Regions from separate parts of the Homo sapiens genome. Here region 1 is linked to region 2. The links come from fine-mapping of genetic effects on gene expression. A gene starts in region 2. The other region holds a variant in brackets. All regions are shown on one strand. Distances are between the middles of the regions. Region 1 holds the start of CYB5R1 (cytochrome b5 reductase 1). Region 2 holds the start of KLHL12 (kelch like family member 12).

What was found.
Region 1: its variant is fine-mapped to the expression of KLHL12 in whole blood (TOPMed, PIP above 0.99).

Annotation. Positions count from the first base shown.
Region 1 is chr1:202,962,517-202,978,907 of GRCh38, reverse strand. It overlaps CYB5R1 (cytochrome b5 reductase 1), which reads left to right and starts at 11,651. Exons shown (of 9, transcript NM_016243.3): 1 at 11,651-11,717; 2 at 12,010-12,159; 3 at 12,308-12,380; 4 at 12,915-13,021; 5 at 13,408-13,537; 6 at 14,213-14,296; 7 at 15,181-15,266; 8 at 15,743-15,842; 9 at 16,209-16,391. The coding sequence starts at 11,703. The coding sequence ends at 16,381. RefSeq lists silencers at 10,553-10,847, 11,464-11,623, 11,694-11,743. The variant C/T (reference allele first, on the strand shown) is at 9,949.
Region 2 is chr1:202,919,702-202,936,092 of GRCh38, reverse strand. It overlaps KLHL12 (kelch like family member 12), which reads left to right and starts at 8,859. Exons shown (of 12, transcript NM_021633.4): 1 at 8,859-9,004; 2 at 10,886-11,125; 3 at 16,185-16,338. The coding sequence starts at 10,931. RefSeq lists enhancers at 6,589-7,088, 7,089-7,590, 8,667-8,716.

The DNA.
Region 1 (16,391 bases), 43 kb before region 2:
GTAGTGGGCAGGAAAACGAAGATTAAAAAAACAATTAGAAAAAAGAAAGAAAGAAACAATCAATCTCAATAATTTCCAGGGCTCTTTCTGTGCCCATGGAAGGCACTAATTCTCTCCAGATATTGGCTCCTCACCCCAGCCTCTACCATGGCAAGAAAGCAGATGCTGAAAAACAGATGCTGAAACTTGGGCTGTTTTAAACAACAAAGAGTGGCAAAGAACAGAGCAAAAGCAAAAATAAAATGAGACCATAAAGAAGTGTTTGAGTTGGCTTCCCCACTTCCACTCTACCATCGCCCTACATATACCTTCTTCCAAGCCTCCCTGCATTCCATTGTTCCAGGGTCCTTTTTTCAACCGTGGTTCTCAATCAGGAGCAATTTCCCCCCCTGGGGACATTTGGCAATGTCTGGAGATATTTTTGGTTGTCACAGCTAGAAGATACTATTGACATCTAGTGCAATAGCTGGGGATGCTGCTGTGAACAGAGAATAAATCTCAGGACCCCAAAATCACTAAGCCAAAGGGAAAAGTCAAGCTGGGAACTGTGTCAGTCAGACAAACCTGCCTCCCTCCTTTTTTTTTTTTTTTTTTTTTTTTTTGACCGAGTTTTTCCTCTTGTTGCCCAGGCTGGAGTGCAGTGGCACAATCTCGGCTCACTGCAACCTCTGCCCCCCAGGTTCAAGCAATTCTCCTGTTTTAGCCTCCCAGGTAGCTGGGATTACGGGTCCCCACCACCAGGCCCAGCTAATTTTTGTATTTTCAGTAGAGACGGAGTTTCACCATGTTGGCCAGGCTGGTCTTGAACCCCTGACCCCAGGCAATCCACCCGCCTCAGCCTCCCTAAGTGCTGGGATTATAGGCAGGAGCCACCGTACCCAGCCCTGCCTCCCATTTTATTCCTAAATAAGATAGCTACAAAGATTTTTGTTTTTTGAAGCTACATACTTTCCTCACAATTTGCCTGCAAGGAAATTCCTTGTGGGCCTCAGGATCTTTACCCTAAAACAGTTCTGTTGAATTTCACCTTGGCAAAGTACATTGATAGCTTCTCTTCACAGGTGCGGGACAAAGAACTCAAACTCATCCTGCTCACCTGAGACAAATGCGCATCTGATGGCTCCCTCTGCCTTCTTGTTTATGTAAAAATGCAGATTCATTGAGCCAAATTAAGGCATAAGTGATCATTCCTCTACCCCCACCTCACATGTAAATTGCATATTCAGTGAAAAGCTGATTGAAGACTCAAAATAATGCAACCATTTGTCTCTTATCTACCTATGACTTGGAAGCCCCTGCTTCAAGTTGTCCTGCCTTTCCAGACCAAACCAAAGTACATCTTACATGTATTGATTGATGTCTCATGTCTCCCTAAAATGTATAAAACCAAGCTGTGTTCTGACCACCTTGGGACATGTAGTCGGGACCTCCTGAGGCTGTGTCACAGGTGCATCCCTAACCTTGGCAAAATAAACTTTCTAAGTTGATCGAGACCTGTCTTGGATACTTTTCGTTCATACTGCTAAGCAAACTATAATGGGCAGAACAGCCCTTGACAACAAAGAATTGACCAGCCCAAAATGTCAGTAGCACCAAGGTTGAGAAACCCTGCTCTTTGATAAATCAGCAACAGCTTTCGTGACAGGGTGAGACCACATTTAAACAATTGTACTACAAGCAGAGAGTGTTCAAATGATGCAAGGAGAGAATAGATTTTTCAAACAGCAGATAGGTCAAAAGAAATTATTTCTACCACAAAAGGCAAAACCACTAGTTTGACGAATAAGTCATGGTACATAAAACATGTCTGGAGAAATATCTATAAGGGACAGAATTCATGAATGTAAAGTCTTTACATTTAGATTTGTGTTTGGTCAATAATATAAGGTTTTACTTGGGATTTATAGTGTAAAAATAATCTGAATCCTTGAAAGGATTATACCTATATTTTATAAATCTATGAACTTCTCTCTCAGACTCCCTCCAACCAAGATTTTACCTCTACCACTCAACCAAACTTGTTCTTGTCACGATTTCTAATGACTTCCTGATTGCACAATTTGCAATTTGTCACCATATAAAGCCATGAGATTAGCAAGGACGGAGCCCTGGATCATTTCAACATTAAGAGGTAGAGCAGATGAAGGGGGACCAAGAAAAGAGAGTGGGAAAGGGTAGATACAGAGGTAGGAGGAAAACCATTGAGTGTACTGTGAAGACAGTGCTTCAAAAGCAGGTAATAATTAGCTGGATCAAAGGCTGCTGATCGGTCAGGTTCAATGAGGCATGATCATAGATCACTGGAGATTAAAAAAAAAAAATAGCAACAAAAGGATTATAATGAAAAACTGCCCCAGCTGGGCACGGTGGCTCATGCCTGTAATCCCAGCACTTTGGGAGGCCGAGGCAGGCGGATCACCTGAGGTTGGGGGTTAGAGACCAGCCTGACCAGCATGGAGAAACCCTATCTCTACTAAAAATACAAAATTAGCCAGGTGGCACATGCCTGTAATCCCAGCTACTCAGGAGGCTGAGGCAGGAGAATCGCTTGAACCTGGGAGGCGGAGGTTGCAGTGAGCCGACATCACGCCACTGCACTCCAGCCTGGGCGACAAGAGCGAAACTCTGTAGAAAGACAGAAAAGAAAGAAAGAAAGAAAGAAAAAAGGAAGGAAGGAAGGGAGAAAGGAAGAGAGAAAGAGAGAAAGGAAGGGAGGAAGGAAGGAAGGAAGGAGGGGGGGAGGGAAGGAAGGAAGGAAGGAAAGAGGAAAAGAGGGAAGGAGGGAAGGAGGGAAGGAAGGGAGGAAGGGGAGAGAAAGAGAAAAACAGCCCCACCTCCCTTGGCCCTAGTTCTGTTCCCTAAACATAACTATAAGGCTTTCTACTATTTCTTCTAGTGTTGCATCCATCTTTCTAAATAACATACTTAAACTGCCATTTTAAAATGTTTGTTTTATAGACAATTCCTTGTCATGTTAGGACATGTCCTTTTATCCAAGTCAACAAATATCCATTTATCTTTCTCCTATTCTTTCTTTTCTTTTCTTTTCTTTCTTTTTTTTTTTTTTTTTTTTTAAGACAGAGTTTTACTCTGTCACCCAGGCTGGAGGGCAGTGGCACAATCTCAGCTTACTGCAACCTCCACCTCCTGGGTTCAAGCGATTCTTGTGCCTCAGCCTCCCGAGTAGCTGGGATTACAGGCACCCACCACTATGCCTGGCTAATTTTTGTACTTTTAGTAGAGACGAGGTTTTACCATGTTGGCCAGGCTGGTCTCAAACTCCTGGCCTCAAGTGATCCACCTGCCTTGGCCTCCCAACGTGTTGGGATTACAGGTGTAAGCCACCTCACCCAGCCCCATTCTTTCAATATAGTTAAATCAATGATTACATTATGATGCTTTTGTAAAATATTCACTGCTGAACAAGTAGTTGTGGGACAATTCTCCAAAGAATTTGTACATCTCAGACTATCTTTTCCAGGATGTTTGGGCAGCAAACAGCCTTAGAAGCTAAAGGTAGTGTCTTCCTTTTGCAGAGGGCAGATTTGTTTATTAAGACAGTGACTCCCTCTGGGAGAAATTTAGAGGCATGGTCCTCCAGCCATATTAAGGAATACTAAGATCTCCCCACTTCTCCCTCCCCAGAGATTTCTTTGCTAACCAGAAAAATAAAGATAATGTCTCCCTGTGGGGCAAAGATTGGGTAGGCTTGCTAGTGGTCCCCTTATAAGACTGGGGGTTTCCTAAGCATAGCATTTCTCAGCTATGAGACAGATGCACTGTGCGCTCAGCATCCACCCAGGCCCACTCAACATTGCTACCGCTCACCAAGTTCCCTCTTGGAACTTTCAGGGAAAGGGGAACTGTTAAGCCCATGCTGCCTGCTGTGCCATGGGTGCTAAAGGACCCACTGTTTCCTTACCGACTGGATTTATGGAGATGTGGCAAGTCAGTCTAGAAGCTTCACTGTGTTTGGGAATTGTTTGACCTCTTGATTAAGCAGTAGTGATCTGTGATTATATTTTATGTGTAATATTTTTCCTAGAGCAAATAATTGCCTCTTTTATTATTTGCATTATCCTAGCCACTTGAGGTTCATCGGTAAACAGACCAAGTTTGTAACCCTCATGGAGCTTACATACTAAAGCGGGAGACAGACAATGAAGATAAACAAGTGTGAAGCAGAAGAATTGCAGGGTTTCGAGTGAAGGGTTTGGCATGATCTGGCTGAAGTTATAAAAGTAATACTCTGCCTACTATGTAGAGACTAGATTACAGAGGAACAAGGATGGAAACAGGGCCAATGAGGATGCTTCTGCAGGAATCCAGGCAAGAAAAGATGATGGTTTAGACCAGAGTGGTGGCAATGGAAGTGGTGAAAACAGCCAAATGTTGAATATATTTTGAAGACGAAACCAAAAGAATTTTCCGAAAATTGGTTGTAAGCATTGAGAAGAGGAGTAAGGATAACTGCAAAGTTTTTGTCCAAACTACTGGAAGGATGGAGTTGCCATCCACTGAAATGGGAAGGCTTCTTTGCATGTCATTTAAGGAAATTTGATAATTTTCTCATAAGAGTTCTGTACCTCCTTTGTTATTTTTATTTCCTGGGTACTTTGTATTTTCTGTTGATATTAAACTATCAATGTATATTTAATAATTATGGTGAAATGGACTTCATTCTATTTTAGCTTCATCTTATATCTAGCAATTTTCTTCAAGTTTCTTATTGTTTATAACTAAATGTTGTGCCAAAACTTAAGTATAAGTCTAACAAAACATCTACAGAATGTGTATGTTGAAAATTATTAGATACTAATGAAAGAAATTTTAAAAGACCTAAAGAAATGGAAACATTACATTCATGGATCTGAAAACTTAACATAATAAAGATCTCATTCTCTTCTATACTGATGTATAGATTTAACACAGTTCCAATTGAAATCCCAGCAGAATTCTTTTGGAATTGAGATTAGACAAGCTAATCTCAATCTATATAGAAAGGCAAAGAACCAGAATAGTTAAAACAATGTTGGAAAAGAAGAATAAAGTTGGAGTAATCACACTATCTAATTTCAAGACCTACTATAAAGCTACAGGAATCAAGACAGTATGGTATTCATGAAGGGACAGACACATAGTTCAATATAACAGAACACAGAAATCATAAATAGACCCACAAAAATATACCAACTGATTTTTGAGGAGAGTGCAAAAGCAGCTCAGTGGAGAAAGGATAGTCTTTTCTACAAAAGAAGCTGGAACAAAAGAACATCTGTATACAAAAATAAACAAACCATAACCTAAACCTTATACTTCATGCAAAATAAAATTTAAAATAGATCATGGATAGAAATGTAAACCACAAAGCTATACAACTTTTAGAAGAAAATATAGGATAAAATCTTTATAACTTGGGGTTAGGCAAAGTGTTCTCCGATGTGACACTTTAAATGTGCAGCATGCTGCATTTAAAGAATTGATAGATTGGACCAGCCTAGTCAACATAGTGAAACCCTGTCTCTACTAAAAATACAAAAATTAGCTGGGTATAGTGGCGCATGCCTGTAGTCCCAGCTACTCGGGAGGCTGAGGAAGGAGAATCACTTGAACCCGGGAGGCGGAGGTTGCAGTGAGCCAAGATCGTGCCACTGCACTCCAGCTTGGACAACAGAGAGAGACTTCATCTAAAAAAAAAAATTTGATAAATTGGACTTCAACAAAACTGAAAACCTTCTCAGTGCAAAAGACACTTTAAGACAATGGAAAGACAAGCTACAGGCTGAAATAAAATATTTGCAATATCCAACAAGGAGTTTTGTATTCAGAATATATAAAGAACTCTCAGCCGGGCGTGGTGGCTCATGTCTATAATCCTGGCACTTTGGGAGGCCGAAGCGGGCGGATCACTTCAGGTCAGGAGTTTGAGACTGGCCTGGCCAGCATGGTGAAACCCCATCTCTACTAAAAATACAAAAATTAGCTGGGCATGGTGGCGGGCACCTGTAATTCCAGCTAACTTGGGAGGCTGAGGCCGGAGAATCGCTTGAACCCTGGAGGCAGAGGTTGCAGCAAGCTGAGACTGTGCCATTGCACTCCAGCCTGGGCGACAAGAGCGAAACTCCATCTCAAGAGAAAAAAAAAAAAAGAGCCCTCACAACTCAAGTGGAAGAAAACAATCCAATTAAAACTGGGCAAAATACTTGAACAGACACTTCACCAAAGATGATATATAGATGGCAAATAAGAACATGTTTATTATCATCAACCATTACATAAATGCAAATTAAAATCATAATGAGGATAGCATGGTGGCTCATGTCTGTAATCCCAACACTCTAGGAGGCCAAGGCGGGAGGATCACTTGAGCCCAGGAGTTCAAGATCAGCCTGGGCAATAAAGTGAAAGCTCGTATTTACAAAACTTTTAAAAAAATTAGCCAGGAGTGGTGGCACTTGCTTGTGGTCTCAGCTACTCAGGGAGGTTCAGGTAGAAGAATCGCTGGAGCCTGGGAGGTTGAGGCTGCAGTGAGCCGTGATCATACCACTGCACTCCAGCTTGGTGACAGAGGAGACTCTATCTCAAAAAAACAAAAAAAAAAAAGTAAAATCACAATGAGATACCTCTTCATGCCTATTAGAATGGCCAAAATCAAAAGTGCTGACAATACCAATTGCTAATGAAAATGCCGCAGCAATTGGAATTCTCATCCATTGCTAGTGGGAAGGCAAAATGGTATAATCACCTTGAAAAACAGTTTGGCAGCTTTTTATATAAAGTTAAATATACACCTTCCATGTGATCCGGAAATCACACTTGTGGATATTTCAGAGAAATAAAAACTAGGTTCACATGGAAATCTGCACATGAATGTTTAAAGCAATTTCAATCATCACCAAAAATTGGAAATAACTCAAATGTCCTTCAGCTGATGAATGGATAAACAAATTATGATACAGCCATACAACAGAATACTACTAGCAATGAAAAGAATGGACTGTAAATACACATGATAACTTGGATGAATCTCAAACTATGCTGAGTGAAAGAAATCCACTCAAAAGCTTACATATTGTATAGACTTTATTTATGTGACATTCATAAAGAGGCAAAAGTGTATTGACAGGGAACACATCAGTGATAACCAGGAGTTAAAGGTAAGGGGAGGATGTGGCCATAAAGGGATAGCATATGGGAGATTTGCAGGGTGATCAAACTGGTCTATTTCCTGATTATAGTGGTGCCACAAATCTATACATATTCTAGAATTCACAGAACTGTATGCCCAAGAGTCTATTTTAATGTATGACAATTACAAATTTAAAATGAGACAGCTGGGGCCAGGCGCAGTGGCTCATGCCTGTAATTCCAGCACTTTGGGAGGCCGAGCCGGGTGGATCACAATGTCAGGAGTTCAAGAACAGTCTGGCCAAGATGGTGAAACCCCTTCTCTACTAAAAATACAAAAATTAGCCAGGCGCCATGGCGGGCGCTGTGGAAGTCGCCTATAATCCCAGCTACTCAGGAGGCTGAGGCAGGAGAATCTCTTGAACCCGGGAGGCAGAGGTTGCAGTGAGCCGAGATCGTGCCACTGCACTCCAGCCTGGGTGACAGAGTGAGACTCCATCTCAAAAAAAAAAAAAAAAAAAAAAGGCCGGGCACGGCGGCTCATCCCTGTAATCCCAGCACTTTGGGAGGCCGAGGAGGATGGATCACAAGGTCAGGAGATTGAGACTATCCTGGCTAACACAGTGAAACCCCGTCTCTACTAAAAATACAAAAAATTAGCCAGGCGTGGTGGCGGGCGCCTGTAGTCCCAGCTACTCGGGAGGCTGAGGCAGGAGAATGGCGTGAACCTGGGAGGTGGAGCTGGTAGTGAGCCAAGATCATGCCACTGCACTCCAGCCTAGGCGACAGAGTGAGACTCCATCTCAAAAAAAAAAAAAAAAAAAAGAGACAGGTGGAACTTTGAACACTGACTAGCTATCTGATGAAACTAAGTAATTGTTGTTAATTATTTTTACATGTGATAATGGTATTATGGTTATTTTTAAGTCCTTAGCTTTTAAAGATACACACTAAAATATTTAAGGACAAAGTTATAAAAAATATGGGATTTGCTTAAAAATAATACTGGAGGAAGGAACGGACTGGGGAAGAAATGAAAGAAAGGTGACCATGATTTAATAATTGTTGAAGAGGGTGATGGGTACGTCGGGCTTTATTATACTGTTCTGTCTACTTTTGTATATGTTTGATAGTTTCCATACTAAAAAGTTCAGCCAGGCACGGTGGCTTACGCCTGTAATCCCAGCACTTTGGGAGGCTGAGGCAGGCGGATCACGAAGTTAGGAGTTTGAGACCAGCCTGGCCAACATGGTGAAACCTCGTCTCTACTAAAAGTACAAAAATTAGCCGGGGATGGTGGCGCATGCCTGTAATCCCAGCTACTCAGGAGGCTGAGGCAGAAGAATCACTTGAACCTGGGAGGCAGAGGTTGCAGTGAGTCGAGATTGCGCCACTGCACTCCAGCCTGGGTGACAGAGCAAGACTCCGTCTCAAAAAAAAAAGAAAAGTTCAAAAAGGGTGTGAGGTTGTTAGTTTTCAACATCAAGCTGCCTGGTATGCAGTCTGAGTTTGCCATTTAGTAGGTGATCTTGGGCAAGTGACTTACTTGTCCTAAACTTCAGTTTCCCCCCACTCCATAAAATGAGACTACTAATGATAATATCTATCTCACAGTTGTTGTCAGGATTAAATGGATGTTGTCAGAATACGTGAAAAGCAATTTACCTAGTTCTTGCTATATTGCACATGCTCAATAAATGTTAATTTTTTTGTCATTATTACATCTCCTGGTCTGATTCCTCCATGCCATCTCCTCAGTATGAGCAAGTCTTCCTCCAAGCTTCTTTCTGGATATCTTATCTAAAAAGGGCCACTGAGTTTTACATCCTAATTCAGAATTATAAAACACAGGTTTGAAATTCTACTTCCCCCTCACACTACATTATATATATATATTTTTTTAAACAGGGTCTTGCTCTATTGCCCAGGCTGGAGTGCAGTGGCGCAATCATGGCTCACTGCAGCGTTGATCTCCCAGGCTCAAGCAATACCCCCACCTCAGCCTCCTTAGTATCTAGGACTACAGGCCAGCGCCATCGCACTTGGCTAATTTTTGTATTTTTGTAAAGACAGGATTTTGCCATGTTGCCCAGGCTGGTCTCAAACTCCTGGGCTCAAGTGATCCATCCAGCCTCCCAAAGTGATGGGATTACAGGCGTGAACCCAGCCTGTTCTATTCTTTATTGTATACCCAGGAGGAAATCCTAAACTTAAAAGATTGGGTTAAATAAAAATTCAGAAATGCCTATCTTTTCCTCCAAACTAGGAGTAATGTAAGATTACCATGAGTCGTGGTGGAGTGGAGTTCAATTCACCACAGAATCTGAGACAGGAAGACCTGCCAGGCCATCAGCCCCTTCCCACCACTCCTGCAGCATTCATTTTCAGGAGCAAAAGAGCCTTCCCACAATTACTGAGTCCAACACTTAGTTTCCAGGATAAGCCCACACCCAACCATTCTGTCCTGTGGTTCCCAGTGATACACTCACACTTGTTAGAATGTGCCACTTTGGGGTTCAGAAAATGCAATCACTGAGAGAAGCCCGAGTTGTAGTTATGCTCTCCTTTCGTTCCATACTTCCCCCTCTCTTGCCACATCTATCCACTAGAGGGAGGAAGGCCTAGAACCTCTTTAGCCAGAGTGGAGCAGTGGCAAGGATCAGTAGTGTGGCTTCTTAACCAAGCCAGCAGTGGGGATGTCAGAAGCACCGGAACATAATCGCCTCATTCTCTCGGAACAGAAAAGAGGAAGGGTCCCTTCCTTCCCCTTTTCAACCCTCTCTGCATGGATTGGCATGTCACCATGATCTGGTGCACTCA[C/T]TTCCCTCAAGTCAGTGTGCAGGCTGCTTAAAAAATTCAGAGGAACATGTACTGGGGTCTTAGGAACATTTTCAGCCAGTGGAGAGGAAAAGGAAAACTAAGTATCTCTTGGATCATTCACAGAGTTCACCAAATACAACTGAAAACTGGGGGCTCTAATGTCCCTGCTGCCCTGATGGTATTAGTTTAAGATGTTGACACTGACATCTGCAGAGATCTCATCCATCACGGTATATCAAAGAGCAAATGTCATTCTAGTTGAGAAACTCATGTATGAGAAAGAATGGTCATCTTGGGAAATCTGTAGCTCCAGCGGCTCCTGATGTTTTTTCCTGCCTCCTCCTGTCCCATGCTTGTGCCCCAGGCAGAGCTCATTCCTAAAACCATAGCTGACCCTCTGTGCTGTCTTTTAAGTTATAATAGTAGCTGCCAACTGTTGAATATTTTGCTTTATGACAGGCACTACACTAAGCACGTTAACATATCTCACTGAAGCCTCACACCAAAGCTATGAACTAGATACAATCTATCTGTAGATAATAATATATATCCATCTGTAGATATCCATCTTATATCCATCTGTAGATGAAGAAACTCAGGTTGAGTAAGCTATCTAAGGTCACAGAGCCAATAAGTGCTAGAGGCAAGATTCTTATTCTGTACACTCTGCCTCCAAAGCCCACTTCTTTGACCCTAAGGGCACAAGAACCCAAATCAGGATGTGAAGCTTGGTCTTTGAAACCAAAGGAAGCTCCTGAATCATCCTGATAGGCTGACGGCTTGGCGCTGTAAACAAAATCAGTCTTTTGTCAAAAGGAAATGAAGTTGCCATGCCACTGTTCACTCCTGTAAGAGACTCCTCTGGGCTGTTCCATTCTCTTGCTGCAATTCAGCCGGTTGAAAAACTAAGGTGACTGCACAATGATTAACTTCAGGCCCTTCTGCTCTACTTTGAGCCTGTCTCTGGTTCATCGTTACACTCTCCGCTCAGCACCCGCAGACTCAAGAGATTTCCAATCCCCCAATTTAGCGTGGTTCTACCTTAGGCAGAACTCCCATCCAGTTCGGATATAAGCGGGTCGAAGTGGCAGGGACCACCTCGCTGGGAGGAGAGGCTGGAGCTGCGGTCTTAAAAGATCTTGGGGCCGGGCGCGATGGCTCACGCCTGTAATCCCAACACGTTGGGAGGCCGAAGCGGGTAGATTATTTGAGCCCTGGAGCTCGAGACCACCCTGACCAACACGGTGAAACCCAGTCTGTACTAAAAATACAAAAAAAAAATTAGCCGGGCGTGGTGGCGCACGCCAGTAGTCCCAGATACTCGGGAGGCGGAGCCAGGAGAACCACTTGAAACTGGGAGGCGGAGGTTGCAGTAACCGAGATCGCGCCACTGCACTCCAGCCTGGGCGACAGAGCGAGGCTCCGACTCAAAAAAAAAAAAAAAAGTATTGAATAAGCACCGGAGACCCTGAGCCACCGAGTAGCGGAGGGAAAGGGTGGCGCGCAGAGGGGCCCAGCCCCGCCTCTGCCGGACCCCGCCCCCAAAAGGCCCCGCCGCCGCCACCTCCTGCTAGGCCCCGCCCCCGACAGACACCCCCCCCCCCCCCCGCCAGGCCCCGCCTCCTGCCCCCCCAGCCGCGAGGTCCTGCCTCCTGCCCGGCCCCGCCCCCGGCCTGCCCCGCCCTCCGACCCGCCCCGCGGCGCATTGTGGGATCTGTCGGCTTGTCAGGTGGTGGAGGAAAAGGCGCTCCGTCATGGGGATCCAGACGGTAAGACCCTCATTCAGTATCCTCCACTGGGGGACCCCTCCCCATCTGGTTCTGGCCACTCAGCTCCGGACCAGGGGCTGTCGCTGCCGACCCCGCCCCGCAGGGCTCTGGGCCCACCGTGGATGCTGGGGTCCCGATCCCGCACATCCGGGCTCGGGACTCCGCCAGGTTACCCCTCTGCCCTTGGCATGCCTCCGCGCTGGAGCTCGGGATCGCCACCCCTGGGACGGTCACCACCCAAGCCCCGGGCTCTTACCCAGCCTGGCGGTCACGCTGCCTCCTCTACCCACAGAGCCCCGTCCTGCTGGCCTCCCTGGGGGTGGGGCTGGTCACTCTGCTCGGCCTGGCTGTGGGCTCCTACTTGGTTCGGAGGTCCCGCCGGCCTCAGGTCACTCTCCTGGACCCCAATGAAAAGTACCTGCTACGACTGCTAGACAAGACGGTAAGTTGGGGAAGAAAGGGCCAGGGTGAAGGAGGGGACCAGAGTGCTCCTGGCATGGAGGGTACAGCACCCACGGTGGTTGGGATGTCCAAGGGACGTGGCAGCGCCAGGCGCGCTTGGTGAAACACTTGTGTCCTCCACCCTCCAGACTGTGAGCCACAACACCAAGAGGTTCCGCTTTGCCCTGCCCACCGCCCACCACACTCTGGGGCTGCCTGTGGGTAAGGAAAGTGTGGAATGGGCTCCTTTCCCTGGTATCCTCAGAAGGTGACTCCCCTCCTGGGATCTCATGAAACACGCTGCTTCAACCGGTTTGCTCCACACACCATTCCCCTTCCCCCACTTGGCTCTGCATCCTCCAAGCTGTGAGGTGCCACTGGGCCCCTCTAGAGTGTGGCTTCCATGACCCCCATCCAGCTTTAACACTCAACAGTCTTGCCTCTTCCCTGCAGGATTTGCTAATTACTCCCTCTGAGCAAGCACTACTAACTTTTTCCCATTGCCCAGACCCTTTTGGCTCATCTGTCAAGGTCCTGGCAGTAACTGGCAGGAAACGCTGGAAATAAGTGTTTCCTCAACTGGGCGCTTATAAGAGATCCAACTGAGGGCTCAATGGGGCAAATCTTCCCTGCCTTGTAGCTCCTTGGGACCACAGCAGGAAGCAAGACATCTTGTTCTCTCAAATCTCTTTGAGTATTTTGAGGGATGCAGCACATCACAGACAACCCTTATGTAGCTCTCTGCACGGTCCCCAGGCAAACATATCTACCTCTCCACCCGAATTGATGGCAGCCTGGTCATCAGGCCATACACTCCTGTCACCAGTGATGAGGATCAAGGCTATGTGGATCTTGTCATCAAGGTAAGGGGCTAGGAAGGGACCCAGGGGCTGCTTACCCATTCTTTCTGGGATTTGTAGAAATTTCTAAGATTTGCCTGACAGCAGGAAATGGTATGTACTCTGTGGATGTGAAGAAAGTATGAGCTACTCAGGAGACTGAGGCAGGAGACTCACTTGAACCCAGGAGGCGGAGGTTGCAGTGAGCCAAGATTGCGCCACTGCACTCAAGCCTGGGCAGCAAGAGCAAAACTCTGACTCAAAAAAAAAAAAGAAAGAAAGAAAGTATGTAGACGGGGAAAAGATAGCACATATCTGATCCCTGCCCCAGCCTCAGGGAGGTTTAGTCAACATGGGGCTCAGAAACCAGTGACATTCCAAATAAGGTATTTTTCTCTCTGTCTTGTAAGGTCTACCTGAAGGGTGTGCACCCCAAATTTCCTGAGGGAGGGAAGATGTCTCAGTACCTGGATAGCCTGAAGGTTGGGGATGTGGTGGAGTTTCGGGGGCCAAGCGGGTTGCTCACTTACACTGGAAAAGGTAATGACCTGTCTTCTCCTTGAGCCTGTCTCCCACTTTATCAGTTCCCATAGTCCTCTTGGCACAGTATGGCTGTGTGTACACATGTGTATGCACGTAAGGGCCAGGGCCGCCCTTCCTTCTAAACATAGCGCTGATACAATAGAAAGGCATGTTTCTCAGCCCCATTTGCCACAGGAAGCAGTTCCTCCTCCACTTGAATTCCCTAGCCATGGCAGCTGTGGAGATTACTAAAGCAAACATGTGCCCCTCTTCCCCACCTTCAAAAATTTGCCCCCCTGGGTGAGCTGTGGAGTGAGCCAGAGATAGCTTTCAGCCCTTCCCATGGGAACAGCTGGGTGCATTAGCAAGTCCCTGGAGCTGCTGTGTGCCACTTGGGAAAATAGATTCACACCTGGCTCTGTGCCTGTCTCCTTCACCAGGGAGTGACACTTTGCCAGAAGCAGCTGATACATTGTGTGGCGCTGAACTGACTCACAGATAGCCCTGGCCCCATTGTCCCTCAACTATATTATTGTCAGGGCTGGCTCAACTCAAGCTTCCACCCAAGCTCCAGGATCAGATGTCATAGCAGCTGCTCAACTGGCCTCAGGCATATTTTCAACTCTGCATTTGTTTTCTAAGTTCGCTGTATTGACTTTATTCTTCCACTGCTCTCTTCACCTGACCTCTCAGGGCATTTTAACATTCAGCCCAACAAGAAATCTCCACCAGAACCCCGAGTGGCGAAGAAACTGGGAATGATTGCCGGCGGGACAGGTGCATTACACTGAGGGCCTTTCTCTCCCACCATTGTTGACTGTTGCCATGCAAATTCCTAGGTGACCCTCTGAAGACTGGTAACCATAGCCAAGCTGTTGTTCATCAGGGGATTTCCAGCAATGCTTAGAACTCCCTAGTATCTGAAAAACAAAATCATAAGCAGGTAGAAACCAAAAAAAATTTTAACTGATGGAATTAGAGAAACAAATTAAATGAGCTTTCCTCATTTTGAATGGATCTAATAGTTTTAGGTGAGAGAAGAGAGAAGCAGCTAGGAATGACTAGCTAGGAAGAAAGAAAATTAGCATTGGACACTACTGTGCATTAGACACTGTGTAGTCTAATACACTACTATATATTAGACACAAAAATTAGACACATATATAGGTATCTATGAAGTAGGTACTAGCCTTTTCCTTTTACAGAGAGACAATGGGGTTCCAGAGAGGCTAAATGATTTCCACAGGGTTATTTCACTGGTAATGGCCTGGAGCAAAATTAGTATTTGGCTCTGCCTAGTGCCTAAGTACATGCACTTAACCTCTGCAAATACAGTGTTCTAGAACCCTCATCATTGAATCCGGAGGTACTTGTAGTCATTTGTGACACTGGAGTCCTAGCCTCCAAAGGACTTTCAGAAGAGTCTTAGATTAGTTCCTAAGAAAGATTTCTACAATATGAACTTAGATGAATTTGAAGGGTGCCCGGAAATACAGATGTTGGAGAATATGCAGGAAGAGTTTAGAGGATGAGAATGCTAAAGGAAAATGGAGTGGAGTGGTGAATGAGCAGAATGAAGATGAAAGGGCTGGTCAGCTAAGGAGCCAGGACAGGGCAGAGAGTGTGGCCACTACATTTCACTGTGGGGTATCTTCATGCAGGAATCACCCCAATGCTACAGCTGATCCGGGCCATCCTGAAAGTCCCTGAAGATCCAACCCAGTGCTTTCTGCTTTTTGCCAACCAGGTTGGTTTGTTTTCCTCCACCCTAAGACTTCAAAGTTGCTGTGTGGGTAGGGCTGAGAGACGTGGTATGGATGGGCAGAACTGGCCCAGTGCCCTGTTTTAGCCTCTGCCCAAGGTCCCCTCTGTAAGGCACAGGGTCCTCTTTCAATAAGGAGGAAAAGGACAGAGCACTGAATCAAATTCCTTCCCTGGTCCCCAAGGAAAGAAGAAAACTTTTAAGGTATCTAGTCTGGAGCACAGAAACTTAGATCTTCTTGGTTAAATATTCATCTTTGTTCCTTCATAATGTGTAGATAAAGGCTGTTCCCCTCTTCTCCTCATCCTAACTCCCTAAAAGCACTGCAAGTCTTGCTTATTTCCTAGAACTTTTGCTTTCCCTTAACATTCTTTTTCTTAGTTGGAAAGTTGTATAGCAGAAAACTTTTTATGTGGGCCTGAGAAGACTCCTAAAGACTTTCCTTCCCCTTTGCATTTCAGACAGAAAAGGATATCATCTTGCGGGAGGACTTAGAGGAACTGCAGGCCCGCTATCCCAATCGCTTTAAGCTCTGGTTCACTCTGGATCATCCCCCAAAAGGTATCCTTCCCATTTCTGGACATCCCACTATCCCCTCATCGTCAAAATCAAAGCCTTGCCCCTTTGTGAATTCTGGCTTCATTGAAATCAACCTTGCCTCACACTGCCAACTCGGAAGTCTGAGTGCACAGACACAGTGATCTCCTGGTCCCTTTCCTTTGGGTTCCTGTTTACCAGGTGGGTGACAGGGATGGCGGTGCTGCTAAGGCTCAGCTTGAGGCAGGCTGAGTATACCCATTCCCAGCTGCTGCTACCACTTGACACTTTCTCCAGAGCCTTTCAGGGCCCTCCCCAGTCTCATGGCACCACACCCCCTTGCCAGCATGTATCTGGAGTATTAAGTACTTTCTTCTCCCCATACTTCAGATTGGGCCTACAGCAAGGGCTTTGTGACTGCCGACATGATCCGGGAACACCTGCCCGCTCCAGGGGATGATGTGCTGGTACTGCTTTGTGGGCCACCCCCAATGGTGCAGCTGGCCTGCCATCCCAACTTGGACAAACTGGGCTACTCACAAAAGATGCGATTCACCTACTGAGCATCCTCCA
Region 2 (16,391 bases):
ACTCATGCTGTTCTCATGTGAGTCAATTCTCATGAGAGCTGATAGTTTTATAAGGGGTTTCCCCCTTTTTACTTGGCATTTCTTGCCATGTGAAAAAGGACATGTTTGCTTCCCCTTCCACCATGATTGTAAGTTTCCCTAGGCCTCCCCAGGCATGCTGAAATGTGAGCCACTTAAACCTCTTTCCTGGCTGGGCATGGTGGCTTATGCCTATAATCCCAGCACTTTGGGAGGCCGAGGCAGGCAGATCACTTGAGGTCAGGAGTTCAGTACCAGCCTGGCCAACATGCTGAAACCCCACCTCTACTAAAAACACAAAAAAATTAGCCGGGTGTGGTGGCAGAGACCTGTAATCCCAGCTACTCAGGAGGGTGAGTCACAAGAATCACTTGAACCTGGGAGTCAGAGGTTGCAGTGAGCCAAGATTACACCACTGCACTCCAACCTGGGCGACAGAGTGAGACTCCGTCTCAAACAAACAAACAAAAACCAGCCAGGCATGGTGGCTCATGCCTGTAATCCCAGCTACTTGGGAGGATGAGGCAGGAGAATTGCTTGAACCTGGGAGGTGGAGGTTGCAGCAAGCAGAGATTGCACCACTGCACTCCAGCCTGGTCAACAGAGTAAGATTCCATCTCAAAAAAAAAAAAAAACCACACCTTTTTCCTTTATAAATTATCCAGTCTGGGATATATCTTTGTTAGCAGTGAGAGAACAGACTAATACAACACCCATTTTCAATTTTTAAAAAATGCAACTTTGGGAACTTTAGTAAACTTGGATTATTGCAAATGAATAGGACCCAAAGAAATTCTCAGATGTCCTGTGTGTTAGTCTAGTTCTCAGGAAAGCACTTGCTAAGATGAAATTATATGTGCAAAGATTTTATTAGGGGAAATGCTTATATGTAAAGGAAAATAGATTTTAAGACAAAAACAAGAAGAGACAAAGAAGATCATTATATAGTGATAAACGGGACAATTCAGCAAGAGGATATAACGCTTGTAAACATATATGCATCTAACACTGAAGCACCCAGGTATATAAAGCAAATATTATTAGAGCTACAGACAGAGATAGGCCCCAACACAATAATACCTGAAGACTTCAACACTCCGCTTTCAGCACTGGACAGATCTCCCAGACAGAATATCAACTATCAACAAAGAAACATTGCACTTAATCTGCACTATAGAATAAATTAACCTAATAGATATTTACAGAACATTTCATCCAGTGGCTGCAGAATACACATTCTTATCCTCAGCATATGGACCATTTTCAAGGACAGACTATATGTTAGGTCACAAAACAAGTCTTAAAAGATTCAAAAAAATTGAAATAATATGAAGCATCTTCTCGGACCGCAATGGAATAAAACTAGAAATCAATAACAAGAGGAGTTTTGGAAACTATATAAACACATGGAAATCAAACAACATGCTCCTGAATGACCAGTGGGTCAATGAAGAAATCAAGAAGGAAATTGAAAAATTTCTTAAAACAAATGATAATGGAAGGACAACATGCCAAAACCTATAGGATATGGTGAAAGCAGTACTAAGAAGGAAATTTATAGCTAAAAGTGTCTACATCAAAAAAGAAGAAAAACTTCAAATAAAAAACCTAATGATGCATCTTAAAGAATTAGAAAAGCAAGAGCAAACAGAGCCCAAAATTAGTAGAAGAAACGAAATAATAAAGATCAGAGCAGAAATAAATGAATTTGAAATGAAGGAAACAATACAAAAGATCAACAAAACAAAAAAAAATGGCTACTATGAGCAACTATATGCCAATAAATTGGAAAACCTAGAAGAAATGGATAAATTCCTAGACACATAAAACTTACCAAGATTGAACCATGAAGAAATCCAAAACCTGGACAGACCAGTAAGAAGTAACAAGATCAAATCTGTAATAGAAAATCTCTCAGTAAAGAAAAGCCTGGGACCTGACGGCTTCACTGCTGAATTCTACCAAACATTTATAATGAGAGTAATACCAAGCCTACTCAAACTGTTCCAAAAAATAGAGGAGAAGGGAATACTTCCAAACTCATTGTACAAGGCCAGTATTACCCTGATACCAAAACCAGACAAAGACACATCAAAAAAAAAAAAGAAAGAAAGAAAGAAAGAAAGAAAGAAAGAAAGAAAGAAAGAAAGAAAGAAAACTACAGGCCAACATATCTGATGAATATTGATGCAAACATTCTTAACAAAATACTTTCAAACCTAATTCAACAATACATTAAAAAGATCATTCATCATGACCAAGTGGGATTTTCCAAGGGATGCAAGGATGATTCAACATATGCAAATCAGTCAATGTGATATATCATGTCAACAGAATGAAATCATATGATCCTTCCAATTAATGCTGAAAAAGCATTTGATAAAGTTTAACATCCCTTCATGATAAAAACTGTCAAAAGACTAAGGATAGAAGGAACATACCTCAATATAATAAAAGCTGTATATGACAGACCTACAGCTTGTATCGAACTGAGAGCCTTTCCTCTTAGATCTGGAACCTGAAAAGATGCCCACTTTCACCACTGTTATTCAATATAGTACTGGAAGTCCTAGTTAGAGCAATCAGACAAGAAAAAGAAATAAAGCCATCCAAATTGGAAAGGAAAAAGTCAAATTATCTTTGCGTGCAGATGACATGATCTTACATTTGGAAAAACCTAAAGACTCCACCAAAAAACTATTAGAACTGATAAATTCAGTAAAGTCTCAAGATACAAAATCAACATACAAAAATCAGTAGCATTTCTATATGCCAACAGCAAGCAATCTGAAAAATAAATAAAAAAAAGTAATCCTATTTGCAATAACCACAAATTAAATACCAAGGAATTAACCAAAGAAATAAAAAATCTTGGCCGGGCACGGTGGCTCATGCCTGTAATCCCAGAACTTTGGGAGGCCGAGGCGGGTGGATCACAAGGTCAGGAGATCGAGACCACCCTGGCTAACACGGTGGTGGGCACCTGTAGTCCCAGCTACTTGGGAGGCTGAAGCAGGAGAATGGTGTGAACCCGGGAGGCGGAGCTTGTAGTCCGAGATCATGCCACTGCACTCCAGCCTGGGCAACAGAGTAAGACTCCATCTCAAAAAAAAAAAAAGAAAAAGAAATAAAAAATCTCTACAATGAAAACTATAAAACACTGATGAAAGAAATTGAAGAAAACATCAAAAAATAAAAAGATATTCCATGTTCATGGATTGGGAGAATCAATATTGTTAAAATGTCCATATTACCCAAAGCAATCTACAGATTCAATGCAATCTCTAAAATACCAGTAACATTCTTCACAGAAACATAAACAATCCTCAAATGTATATGAAAGCACAAAAGACCTAGAGTAGCCAAATCTATCCTGAGCAAAAAGAATAAAATGGGACAAATCACATTACCTGACTTCAAATTATACTACAGAGCTATAGTAACCAAAACAGCATGGTACTGTCATAAAAACACACAGAGAGAACAATGGAACACAACAGAGAATCCAGAAACAAATCCGCATACCTATGATGAATTCATTTTCGACAAAGCTGCCAAAGAACATACACTGGGAAAAAGAGTCTCTTCAATAAATGGTATTGGGGGAACTGGATATCCACATGCAAAAGAATGAAACTAGACCCCTATCTCTCACCATATGCAAAAATCAAATCAACATGGATTAAAGACTTAAATCTAAGACCTCAAACTATGAAACCACTATAAGAAAACTTTGGGGAAAATCTCCAGGACATTGGTCTGGGCAAAAATTTCTTTATTTTTTTTTTTAAAGATTCTTGTTTCCAGTGGGGTTGGAAAAAATTTCTTGAGTAATACTGCATGAATACAAGAAACCAAAGCAAAAATGGGCAAATGGGATCCCATCAAGTTAACAAGATTCTGCACAGCAAAGGAAACCATCAATAAAGTGAAGAGACAATCCACAGAATGGGAGAAAATATTTTCAAATTACCCATCTGATAAGGGATGAATAACTAGAATATATAAGGGGCTCAAACAACTCTATAGAAAAAAATCTAATAATCTGATTATATCTGGTTAAGGCCAGGTGCAGTGGCTCACACCTGTAATCCCAACTTTGGGAGGCTGAGGCAGGTGGATTGCTTAGTCCAGAGTTCCAGACCAGTCTGGGCAATATAGTGAGACCTCTTCTCATAAAAAATAATTTTTTTTTTAATTAACAGAGCATGGTGGCATGCATCCGCAATACTAGCTACTCAGGAGACTAAGGTGGGAGGATCGCTAGAGCCCAGCATTGAGGAGTAGCAGTTGCAGTGAGCCGAGATCGTACCACTGCACTCCAGTCTGGGTGACAGAATAACACCCTGTCTCAAAATAAATAAATAAATATTTAAAAAATAAAAGTTGGGCAAAATATTTAGACATTTCTCAAAAAAAGACATAAAAATGGTAAACAGGCATAAGAAGAGGTGCTCAACATAATTAATCAGAGAAATGCAAATCAAAATTACATGAGATATCATCTCATCCCAGTTAAAATGGCTTTTATGCAGAAGTCAGGCAATAACAAATGCTGGCAACAATGTGGAGAAAAGGGAACCCTTGTACACTATTGGTGGAAATGTAAATTAGTGCAACCACTATGGAGAACAGTTTGGAGGCGCCTCAGAAAACTAAATCTAGAACTACCATACAATCCAGCAATCCAACTACTGTGTATATACCCAAAAGAAAGTAAATCAACTGTGTGTGGTGGCTCATGCCTGTAATCCCAGCACTTTGGGAGGCTGAGGTGGGCAGATCATGAGGTCAGGAGTTTGAGACCAGCCTGGCCAATATGTGAAACCTTGTCTCTACTAAAAATACAAAAATTAGCCAGGCATGGTGGCCTGCACCTGTAGTCCCAGCTACTTGGGAGGCTGAGGCAGAAAAATTGCTTGAACCTGGGAGGCGGAGGTTACAGTGAGCCGAGATCACACCACTGCACTCCAGCATGGGCAACAGAGTGAGACTCTGTCTCAAAAAAAAGAAAAGAAAGTAAATCAGTGTATCATAGAGATATCTGCACTCCCATGTTTGTTGCAGCAGTGTTCACAATAGCTAAGATTTGGAAGCAACCCAAGTGTCCATCAACAGATGAATGGATAAAGAAAATGTGGTACTTATTCATGATGGAGTACTATTCAGTCATTAAAAATAATGAGATTCTGTCATTTGCAGCAACATGAATCAAACTGAAGGTCATTATGTTAAGTGAAATAAACCAGGCACAGAAAGACAAGCATCGCATGTTCTCACTGATTTGTGGGATCTAAAAACCAACCAATTGAACTCACAAAGATAGAGAGTAGAAGGATGATTACCAGAGGCTGGGAAGGACAGTGGGGGTTGGGGGAAGGTGGGGAGGGTAACGGGTACCGAAAAACTAGAAAGAATGAATAAGACCTAGTATTTGATAGAACAGGGTAAGTATAGTCAATAATAATTGAATTGTACATTTTAAAATAACTAAAAGTATACTTGGATTGTTTTAACACAAAGGATAAACGCTTGAGGGGATGGATACCCAACTTTCTGTGATGTGATTAGTACACATTATATGCCTGTATCAAAATCCCTCTGTACCCCCTAAATATATACACCTACTATGTACCGACAAATATTAACAAAAAAGAGGAAATAAAAGAAGAAAAAAGTCAGAAGTCTGAACTAGTTCCTTTGGTGTGATAATCTTGCTAACAACTTCTCCATCTTTTATTTTGTGAATAAAAGGAGTAGGCATACTCTAAACAAAGCCTCTTTTATTATTAAGTTCCTTCTCATATTTGGAAAAATCCTTAATTTAACAGTCAGGAATTAGGCAATATCATTAAAGTACTATTTTACATCCTGAAAACAAGGAATTATTTTTACTTTTTATTTAATTTAATTAATTTATTTATTTATTTGAGATGGAGCCTTGCTCTGTTGCCCAGGCTGGAGTGCAGTGGCGTGATCTCAGCTCACTGCAACCTCTGCTCCCTGGGTTCAAGCGATTCTCCGGCCTCAGCCTCCTGAGTAGCTGGGATTTCAGGCGCAGGCCACCATGACTGGCTAATTTTTTTATTTTTAGTAGTGACGGGGTTTTGCCACGTTGGCCAGGCCAGTCTGGAACTCCTGACCTCAGGTGATCCGCCCGCCTCGGCCTCTCGAAGTGTTAGGATTACAGGCGTGAGCCACTGTGCCCAGCCTATTTTTACTTTTTAAAAAATTGAACATATAAATATATTTTGAGGCGTGCTCTTGCTACGTTGCCCAGGCTGGTCACGAACTTCGGGGCTCAAGCAATCTTCCTGCTTCAGTCTCCAAAGCAGATAGGACAACAGGTAGGTGTACACCACCGCACCAGGCTCTGAACATTATTTTTAATTCATATGAAGCAAAATTCAAAAGGCAAAATAAATTACAAAGAGCAAAAATCTCCTTCCCACCCTGTCTCACAACCAAACAGTTCCTTTCCCCAAAGAAACCAAGGTTACCACTTTGTCTTTTCAAATACATGTTACACATACACAAGCAAATATGAATATATCTTCCACCTTTTTACACCAATAATAGAGTATATAAATTGTTCACAGCTTCATGGTATTGGATTTTATGGATGTACTATACCTTATTGAATCAGTCCCCTATTAATGGACATTTAATGTTGTTGTTGATCTAATCTACAAACAATGCTGCAGTTAACAATCTTGTACATACATCGTTTTACATGTGCACGAGTATATGTGAAGGAAAATTTTATTAAAATCGACGAATATTTCCAAAATGCCCCCAATAATATACCAATCTTGCATTCTTCTCTACAATGTGTGAGTCAGGGACAGTTTTAGATCAGGAAGGTATGACATGGAAGATGGGGACACGTTGTAAATTTAGAATGCTACCCACTTGGCTATGGTTTTAGTACCCTTAAGAATCAAAGGGCTAGGCGCTGTGGCTGACGCCTGTAATCCCAGCACTTTAGGAGGCCAAGGCGGGCGGATCACGAGGTCAGGAATTCGAGACCAGCCCGGCCAAGATGGCGAAACACCGTCTCTATTAAAAACACAAAAATTAGTCGGGCGTGGTGGTGTGCACCTGTACTCCCAGCTACTCGGAGAGGCTGAGGCAGGAGAATTGCTTGAACCCGGGAGGCGGAGGTTGCAGTGAGCTGAGATCGCGCCAGTGCACTCGAGCCTCGGCGACAGAGCAAGAGTCCGTCTCAAAAAAAAAAAAAAAAAAAAAAAAGAATCAAAGGGCTCACAGAGCATAATAGTATTACCAAACACAATTTGTCTAGACATTCAGATAAGCTGAACTAATTAAGCTTTTTGCCTTTTCAGTCACTAAGTGCACCAAAATAAATTAGAATTTCCTGAATCAATTAGAATTTCCTTAGAATCAATTCAGTGGTGATGACAGGGCCCATTATGATGCAGAGTATATACTGAGGTCTGTGGATCCTAAGGCTCAGAGGATTCTCGCCGCAGCGTTGTTCGGCCCGAAAAGGCCATTGTGGACAATGGACGTGAATAAATTTGAGGCCTCTGTGGGTTTTCTCGATGTCAAAAAGTTCCTCAGTACCTGGAAGGTAAAACATACTTGCTGCAATCAGATGCTTGGCATATTAAGCGTTGGAATTCTCTCTGCCTGCCCTGCCTAGTGAGCGGTAGGGAGGAACTCAGGCTCAGCCAATCGCCGAGCTGTAGATACATTCCCAGGCTCCCTGCCGGACCCCACAACATCCAGCCTTTTTTTTGTTTTTTCTTTTTTTTCTTTTTTCTTTTTTTTTTTTTTGAGACGGAGTCTTGCTCTGTCGCCCAGGCTGGAGTACAGTGGCGCGATCTCAGCTCACTGCAACCTCCGCCTCCCGGGTTCACGCCATTCTCCTGCCTCAGCTTCCCGAGTAGCTGGGACTACTGGCGCCCGCCACTACGCCCAGCCAATTTTTTTGTATTTTTAGTGGAGACGGGGTTTCACCGTGTTAGCCAGAATCGATCTCCTGACCTCGTGATCCACCCGTCTCGGCCTCCCAAAGTGCTGGGATTACAGGCGTGAGCCACCTCGCCTGGCCTTTTTTTTTTTTTTTTAAGAGACAGAGTCTCAGTCGGTCGCCCAGCCCGGAGTGCAATGGCGCGATCTCGGCTCAGCAACCTCCGCCTCCCAGGTTCTAGCGATTCTCCTGCATTAGCCTCCTGAGTAGTTGGGATTACAGGCGCGTGCCACAACGCCCGGCTAATTTTTTTGTATTTTCAGTAGAGATAGGGTTTCACCATGTTGGCCAGGCTGGTCTCGAACTCCTGACCTCAAGTAATACACCCGCCTCGGCCTCCCAAAGTGCCGGGATTACAGGCGTGAGCCACCACGCCTGGACATTTTTTTTTTTTTTTTTTTTTTACAGGGTCTCATTCTGTGGCCCAGGCTGGAGTGCAGTGGCGATCCTGGCTCACTGCAACCTCTGCTGCCTGGCTCAAGTGATCCTCCTGTCAGCCTCTCGAGTAGCTGGGACTACAGGCGCGGTGCGGGCTAATTTTTTTTTTTTTTTTTTTTTTGTAGAAACGGGGTTTTGCCGTGATCCCCAGGCGGGTCTGGAACTCCGGAGCTCAGGTAATTCGCTCGCCTCGGCCTGCCAAAGTGCCGGGATTATAGGCGTGAGCCACCATTCCCTGCCCACCCGACCTTTTTGTAATTCGGCTTCCTAGCAGCGTACAGAAGCCCCGCGCTAGGGTACAGACAGGTCACGTGACACCACCTCCTCACGTGACGCAGACTCTGGAGCGGGGGGAGGGCGGTGCTCCAGCTGCATTGCGTCATCACGTCGCGCGGCCGCAGGGGCCAGACCCGGACGGCTCCAGAGCCTCCAGAGCCTCCGGGTCTGGGCGGCGCTTCGGCTCCTCCCGAGCCGCCTGCTAGCCCCGCGCCGCACTCCATCCCCACAGGCTGGGGACGGGCCCGGTGCGGCTGTGTGGGTTCGGGAGCGGAGGTGAGTTGCGCGGAAGTGATGGCAGTCAGCCCTTCCCTTCCTGTCCGTCAACTCCGGGTTATGGCCCTACCCCCCATCCTTGGTCTCCCTGCAAGGCGGAATGGGAGACATGCCCAACAGAGGAGGAAGGCTGGCAGTGGGGTGGGGCATCTGGCCTCGGTCACCCTCTCAACTCTCCCCCTGAACTGCCCCTCTCCGATACCTCCACCTGGCGGTGGCGGCCATATGCCTGGTGGTATTAGGAGGAAGGACTTCGTTTCCTTCTCTAGAATTTAGTCTTTCCCGAGTTTACTACCCATTCCCTGCCCCGAATCTCCCGAAGTGGAATCCCTCCATTCAGATGTTAACGAAAGTTCTAGAAAATAGGTCACTTCAGAAGGGTGAGGATGAAGGATATGCTGAGACTTGGAGTGTTGAGGCAGGAATCCCCTAGAAGGAAGACCACTCTGCACCGGGGTACTGTCATTTTGACACGGAAACGATAAAAGACCCCCCGGGCTGTCTTCATAGTAAATGGACATTTGTTCTAGACCTTTTTACACCCCTAGAGTTGCAACTAAGTTGACTTAAGTCTTTTTGAAAAACATATGCTTTGATGAATCACCCGCTTTTCTGTAAAATGGGTCTTGCAGAGTTGTTGGAGGAATTATCTATAGTGCTTATAGAGTAAAATGCCAACTACAAACAGAAGTAGATGAGAATTTAGGATCTCATTTTTCCTGTTGAAAGATTAATTGTGACTTGTGGACTTTTGGAGACCACAGTTTGATTTCCTTCCCCCCGGATCATTTCAGAAAGTTTTGGATTCCAATATCGATTCTTTAACAGTAATGGACATTCACAGATGTAGAGTAGGAATACCCTCTTGTTGAAGAGCTTCAATATCTTAAGCAAGTGTAAGTCCATCGATAACTTGCGTGGTTTCCATTATTCAGTGTAGGTAATGGGTCCTCAATTGAAGTTTCTTTTTTTTTTTTTTTTTTTGAGACAGAGTCTCGCTCTGTTGCCCAGGCTGGAGTGCAGTGGTGTGATCTCGGCTCACTGCAACCTCCACCTCCTGGGTTCAAGTGATTCTCGGGCCTCAGCCTTCTTGGTAGCTAGGATTATAGGCGCGCATCACCACGCCTGGCTATTTTTTGTATTTTTAGTAGAGACTAGGTTTCACCATGTTGGCCAGGCTGCTCTCAAACTCCTGACCTCAACTGATCACCCACCTCAGCCTCCTAAAGTGCTGGGATTACAGGAGTGAGCTGTTGGGCCCGGCCTGAAGTTTCATTTTAAGAAGAAATCCAGATATGTTTGGAAGTCATCAGACATATCATTTGGATACTTCTTTAGAAAAAAGTTTATTTTTACTGAGTGGCCTTTCTTGCTCTAAGTTGAAGTTGAATACACACTTTTTCTTACATTAAATTCTAAACATTTATTGTGCAACTTCTAGGATAGAAAGCATACATATAAAGCAGGATCCTCTTTTTATGTATGCTCTAAATACTTATCTACTTAAGGACATTAAATAGTAATAATATAACACCTTTAAGAAATTTTATATTTTCGGTTTATCATTTGAGACAAGAACCTTGTCAAGATTTACAAGACATATATTGTTTATCTCTACTTACATTTCAGCATTGATCATATTAAATGTCAAGTGGTAGGGACACTCCGTGATAGAGGAATTCAGAGGAAGAAGAGAGAGCTTTTACATGGACTAGATAGTGGCTAGTGGTTGGTGGTGATGCCAGGCATAGGAGTGCCCTCAACTTGTGTATGTTTGGGTCTGAGGAAGCCTCTTAGGTTCTTAATTTGTAAAGCTAATTAAATATGTTCAGTTGCCCTAGTTCTTTGAATATGCTCATTGTTTTTTTTTCCCTCTTGTAGTTGCAGAATCCAAGGACCCATTTTGTTCTTTCTCCGCACTGCTTTATGGGAGGCATTATGGCCCCCAAAGACATAATGACAAATACTCATGCTAAATCCATCCTCAATTCAATGAACTCCCTCAGGAAGAGCAATACCCTCTGTGATGTGACATTGAGAGTAGAGCAGAAAGACTTCCCTGCCCATCGGATTGTGCTGGCTGCCTGTAGTGATTACTTCTGTGCCATGTTCACTAGTGAGGTAAGTGGTAAATTAGCCCCACACAAATGAAACCCGTGGAACTCTAGTTGTCTAATTTCACTGAATAAAATAGTGGAAGTTTGATATAATTTTGAATTTTTACAGTGTGATGTTTTGGCAGATTCTGGATAAGATCTACCACTTAGATGACTATGCCTTAGTTTCCTCATCTTTAAGTTAGGGATAATAGTAATATGTAACACATGGTTATTAAGGTTGTTGTGAAGATTATTTTATGAAATAACATAGGAAGTGCTTAGAATAGTGTAATATGTAGTAAAACACACATGTCAGCTATTGGATTTTACTATTTCTTAAATTTGTCTTCCAATTTTTCTCCTTTTTTTGTTTTTAATTTTATTTATTTATTTGTAGAGACAGGGTCTCACTATGTTGCCCACGCTGGTCTTGAACTCCTGGGCTCAAGCAATCCTCCTGCCTTGGCCTCCCAGAGTGGCCACACCTGGCATTACAGGTGTGAGCCACGGCATCCAGCCTTTTTTCCTTCTAAAGTTTAAAAATTTTTAAGTGAATACCAGAGGGATAAGGAGGAAGGAAGGAGAGAGGAGTAGGATTCAAACCACATCCCACTCCTCCTAACAATATGTGAAGAAAATCAGTGTAAATTTTAGGATAACTTCAAATGAAAGGAAGAAGAGTTTTTAATGAATAGCTGTACAGGCGTTGAGTGTATAACCTGAGAAAGGATGTTAACTCATAAGCACTTAACAAAGGGAATTAGGAAAAGGTTGGCTTGAGAGAATACAGGTAGTGCTCACAAAGTATTAAGAAACACTACTTAGTAATTGCCTGACAAAATACTTGAAATGTATAGTAAGGCTGCTGAATATATTGTGTTGAATATTCTTAGAAAGCTGAACAGAAAATAACATTGCAAATCTTTGTTTTTCAAGATCCCAAGTCTCATTTTAAGAGCAGATTTAAATAAATTATCTTGATTTATTTTTTCAAAGCTCAGTTGTGGGTGCATCACTGTTTATTATATAATTTACACTTACATGTATGCCTGAAATATTTCATTATGAAAACACTGTTTTAAAAGTCTTTTTAAGCACAAGTTTTTTGTTTGTTTTTTGTTTTTTTTTTAGTTAGTTCTATCATCTTAGTGTAGATATTGCTGCTGAATCAGAATGGGAGAGGCGTATTCTGTGATGGTAATAACTACCTTTTATGGGCCAGGTACTGTGCTAGTAATTGTTGTGCATATCTGACTCACCCTAGGGGTAGGTATTACCATCTCATTTTACAAATGAAGGAATAGGGTTTCAGATATTAAATCACTTGCCCAAAGTCCCATGGCTTGTAAGTGCTAGAGGTGGGATTTCATTTTATATTTTCCAACTCTAAAGCCCAAACAGTTTGTAACTCTTGTGCCGCCTTAGCCTCCGAAGTATGAATTTTATATACTACAATCTAATTTTAAAACTGGTATAGTTAAAAATACTATGAGCCAATGCTCAGTCACATGGCTAGTAGGGAAAACAGGAACCTGACAGGTCATTCCAACTAATTCAGGCTAATTTTTAAATAAACTTGTGTGATATACCAAGGCAGATCCCTGTCCTATACTGTTCTCCATGAGATATACCCAAGATCATCAGAAGCATTTGGAATTTAACTGGGTAAAGAGAGTGTCACCCAGCAGCTGCTGAGCAAGAAATGAACTAGAACGGCTGATTGCTAATTATATGTTGTGCATCCTGTTTTTTGTCAGCTTGAAAATAGTGTCTTTACTCTTTTGTTATTTGGAAATGAATTCTTTTTTTCTCATCAGTGATGATTTCTTTCTTTAAAAACTGACATCAGGCAAGGAAATGCTAGATGGTTTTGTCTTTATTTTTGAGAGTAATTGTTCAAAGGAGAGAGTCCAGAGACCTGGATTCTAGGCTTAGTTCTCTTAGCAATTCTGTATAAACCCTGGGAACCATCTAACTTCACTGGGTTGATCTGTAAAATAAAGTAGTTGAACTAGATGGTTTCCTTGTTCTCTTCAGCTATGAAATGCTCCTCAAATGTCATCTGATTGAAAGATCACAAAGACTGAGGCAGGAGGACCTGGGTTTTGTCTCTCTCTCTCTCTCTTTTTTTTTTCCTGAAATACTTTAATAAGAATGATATCTGTCTCTTACTAGCTAAGTGACTGGTTAAGTCTTGGATCTTCAGCTGGGCGTGGTGGCTCACGCCTGTAATCCCAGCACTTTGGGAGGCCGAAGCAGGTGGATCACGAGGTCAGGAGATCAAGACCATCCTGGCTAACACGGTGAAACCCCGTCTCTACTAAAAATACAAAAAATTAGCCGTGCGTGGTGGCGGGCGCCTGTAGTCCCAGCCACTCGGGAGGCTGAGGCAGGAGAATGGCGTGAACCCGGGAGGCGGAGCTGGCAGTGAGCCCAGATCACGCCACTGCACTCCAGCCTGGGTGACAGAGCGAGACTCTGTCTCAAAAAAAAAAAAAAGTCTTGGATCTTCTTTGATCTTTAGACCCTTTATCGCTCTCTCTTTTTTTTTTTTTCCTTGACGCCTGGCTAATTTTTTGTATTTTTAGTGGAGACGGGGTTTCACCATGTTAGCCAGGATGGTCTCGATATCCTGACCTTGTGATCCACCCACCTCGGCCTCCCAAAGTGCTGGGATTACAGGCTTGAGCCATGTGCCCGGCCCCCCTTTATCTCTTAGATAGTAATAATATCAGACCTAACTACCTTACCAGGTTGCTGTGAGAATCAGATGAAATAGTAGTAAATGAGAAGCATGCTGAAAAATTCTAAAGCAAAATATAACTGTAAAATGTATAATTGCTCTAAGTTCTTACATAGTGAAATTGTTTCCATATTTAAACTATTTGATGGAAATGTAGTTTATTGAATGAGAAATTTCTGGAATACATGTACTTACATATTTCAGTACCATAATTATTAAATGCATTTAATGTGTTGGGATAGTAATTGTTTATGAATATTAGTACTGTATTAAATGTTAATAAAACCTAATATGTTTTTTCAAAATAATGTGCTAGTGACTTTTTTAGTGTTAGGGATTGATTTTGTTCTTGGCTTTGGTAGAGAGTGCTTTTTGGTTATTCTCTGGCTGATGGAGAAATAAAAAACGTTAAAGCCATTTAGTTAATAATGGAGATGCACCAGAGTTTTTTAAGTAAAATGAATTTCTAAACTAAGATTAAGATCTAGTAAAATTTTCATAAGGTATTTTCAGATAGTTTCCTGTAAAATTGAAGATTTCTTCTCTTAGCTAAACAGTTTTCTATGATTATCTGGCCTCATCAATACTCATAGCTTCAAGAAGATATACTACTAACAATTTAGACTAAATATACTGCTAACAATTCAGTTAGTCTAACCCAATATTTTGAAAAAGTAACAAATAATTTATTTGTATTCAGATGATGTTACATAAGAAAGTCCCTTAGGATGACCTGCATGTTCTTTTTCGTCATTACTAAATGCAGTCTAAGGGCCGGGCATGGTGGCTCACGCCTGTAATCCCAGCATTTTGAGAGGCTGAGGTGGGCAGATCACTTGAGGTCAGGAGTTCAAGACCAGCCTGGCCAACATGGTGAAACCCCATCTCTACTAAAAACACAAAAATTAGCCAGGCATGGTGGCATGTGCCTGTAGTCCCAGCTACTCAGGCGGCTGAGGCAGGAGAATCGCTTGAACCTGGGAGGTGGAGCTTGAAGTGAGCCAAGATTACGCCACTGCACTCCAGCCTGGGCAACAGAGCAAGACTGTGTCAAAAAAAAAAAAAAAAATTAGCTGGTTGTAGTGGTGTACTCCTGTAATCCCAGCTACTTGGGAGGCTGAGGCACGAGAAACACTTGAACCTGGGAGGCAGAGGTTGCAGTGAGCTGAGATCACACCACTGCACTCCAGCCTGGGGAACAGAGCAAGACCCTATCTCAACAAAGGGGAAAAAAAAGTAGTCTAAGGACAGATGATAGGAACTAGGTAGTCCTGGAGAGACTGGAGTTATAACCCACAGGCTCCTCTACGAACATGAAATTTCTTTGAAATATTGTGTCTTATCTTAAAAGTTCACGGACCAGTGTTATGTTCATGGAACTTTTGCATTCTATTCTGTAAATACATCTGTATTTTAATATGAAATAGATTTTTAAAGTTATTCACTGGCAAAATTACTATTCCAGGAAGGTGTTACCTATTACTTATTCCTGGCGTATAGATAACTACCTACTTCATTTGGAAAGCTACAGATAATGTGCCATATTTGCTTTATTAAAATCCAACAAAATTGGCCGGGCGCGGTGGCTCACGCCTGTAATCCCAGCACTTTGGGAGGCTGAGGCAGGCGGATCACGAGGTGAGGAGATCGAGACCATCCTGGCTAACACGGTGAAACCCCGTCTCTACTAAAAGTACAAAAAATTAGCCGGGCGTGGTGGCGGGCGCCTGTAGTCCAAACTACTCGGGAGGCTGAGCCAGGAGAATGGCATGAACCCAGGAGGTGGAGCTTGCAGTGAGCCGAGATGGCACCACTGCACTCCAGCCTGGGAAACAGTGCAAGATTCCGTCTCAAAAAAAAAAAAAAAAAAAAAAAAATCCAACAAAATAGAGCATAATTTTATTTTTTTATTTTCTTTCTTTTTTATTTTTTTGAAATGGAGTCTCACTCTGGTGCCCAGGCTGGAGTGGAGTGGCACAATCTTGGCTCTCTGCAACCTTCGCCTCCTGGGTTGAAGCAATTCTCCTGCCTCAGCCTCCTGAGTAGCTGGGACTACAGGCATGTGCCACCATGCCCAACTAATTTTTGTATTTCTAGTGGAGACGGGGTTTCACTGTGTTGGCCAGGCTGGTCTTGAATTCCTGACCTCAGGTGATTTGCCTGCCTTAGCCTCTCAAAGTGCTGGGATTACAGGCATGAGCCACCACGCCTGGCCTGTAATTTTTAAAGATAAATGTTCAATTAATATTATTAACATCTCTAAGCTCTTAGATATGAGATTCTGCCTTTATCTTGTGGAATTATAACCATCATTCTTTTATACCTTTTGAATTTTCAGCTCTCAGAGAAGGGGAAACCTTATGTTGACATCCAAGGTTTGACTGCCTCTACCATGGAAATTTTATTGGACTTTGTGTACACAGAAACAGTACATGTGACAGTGGAGAATGTACAAGAACTGCTTCCTGCAGCCTGTCTGCTTCAGTTGAAAGGTACAGACATTAAAACTTGCTATTGTTTATGTCAAAATAGCCCTGGAAAGGTT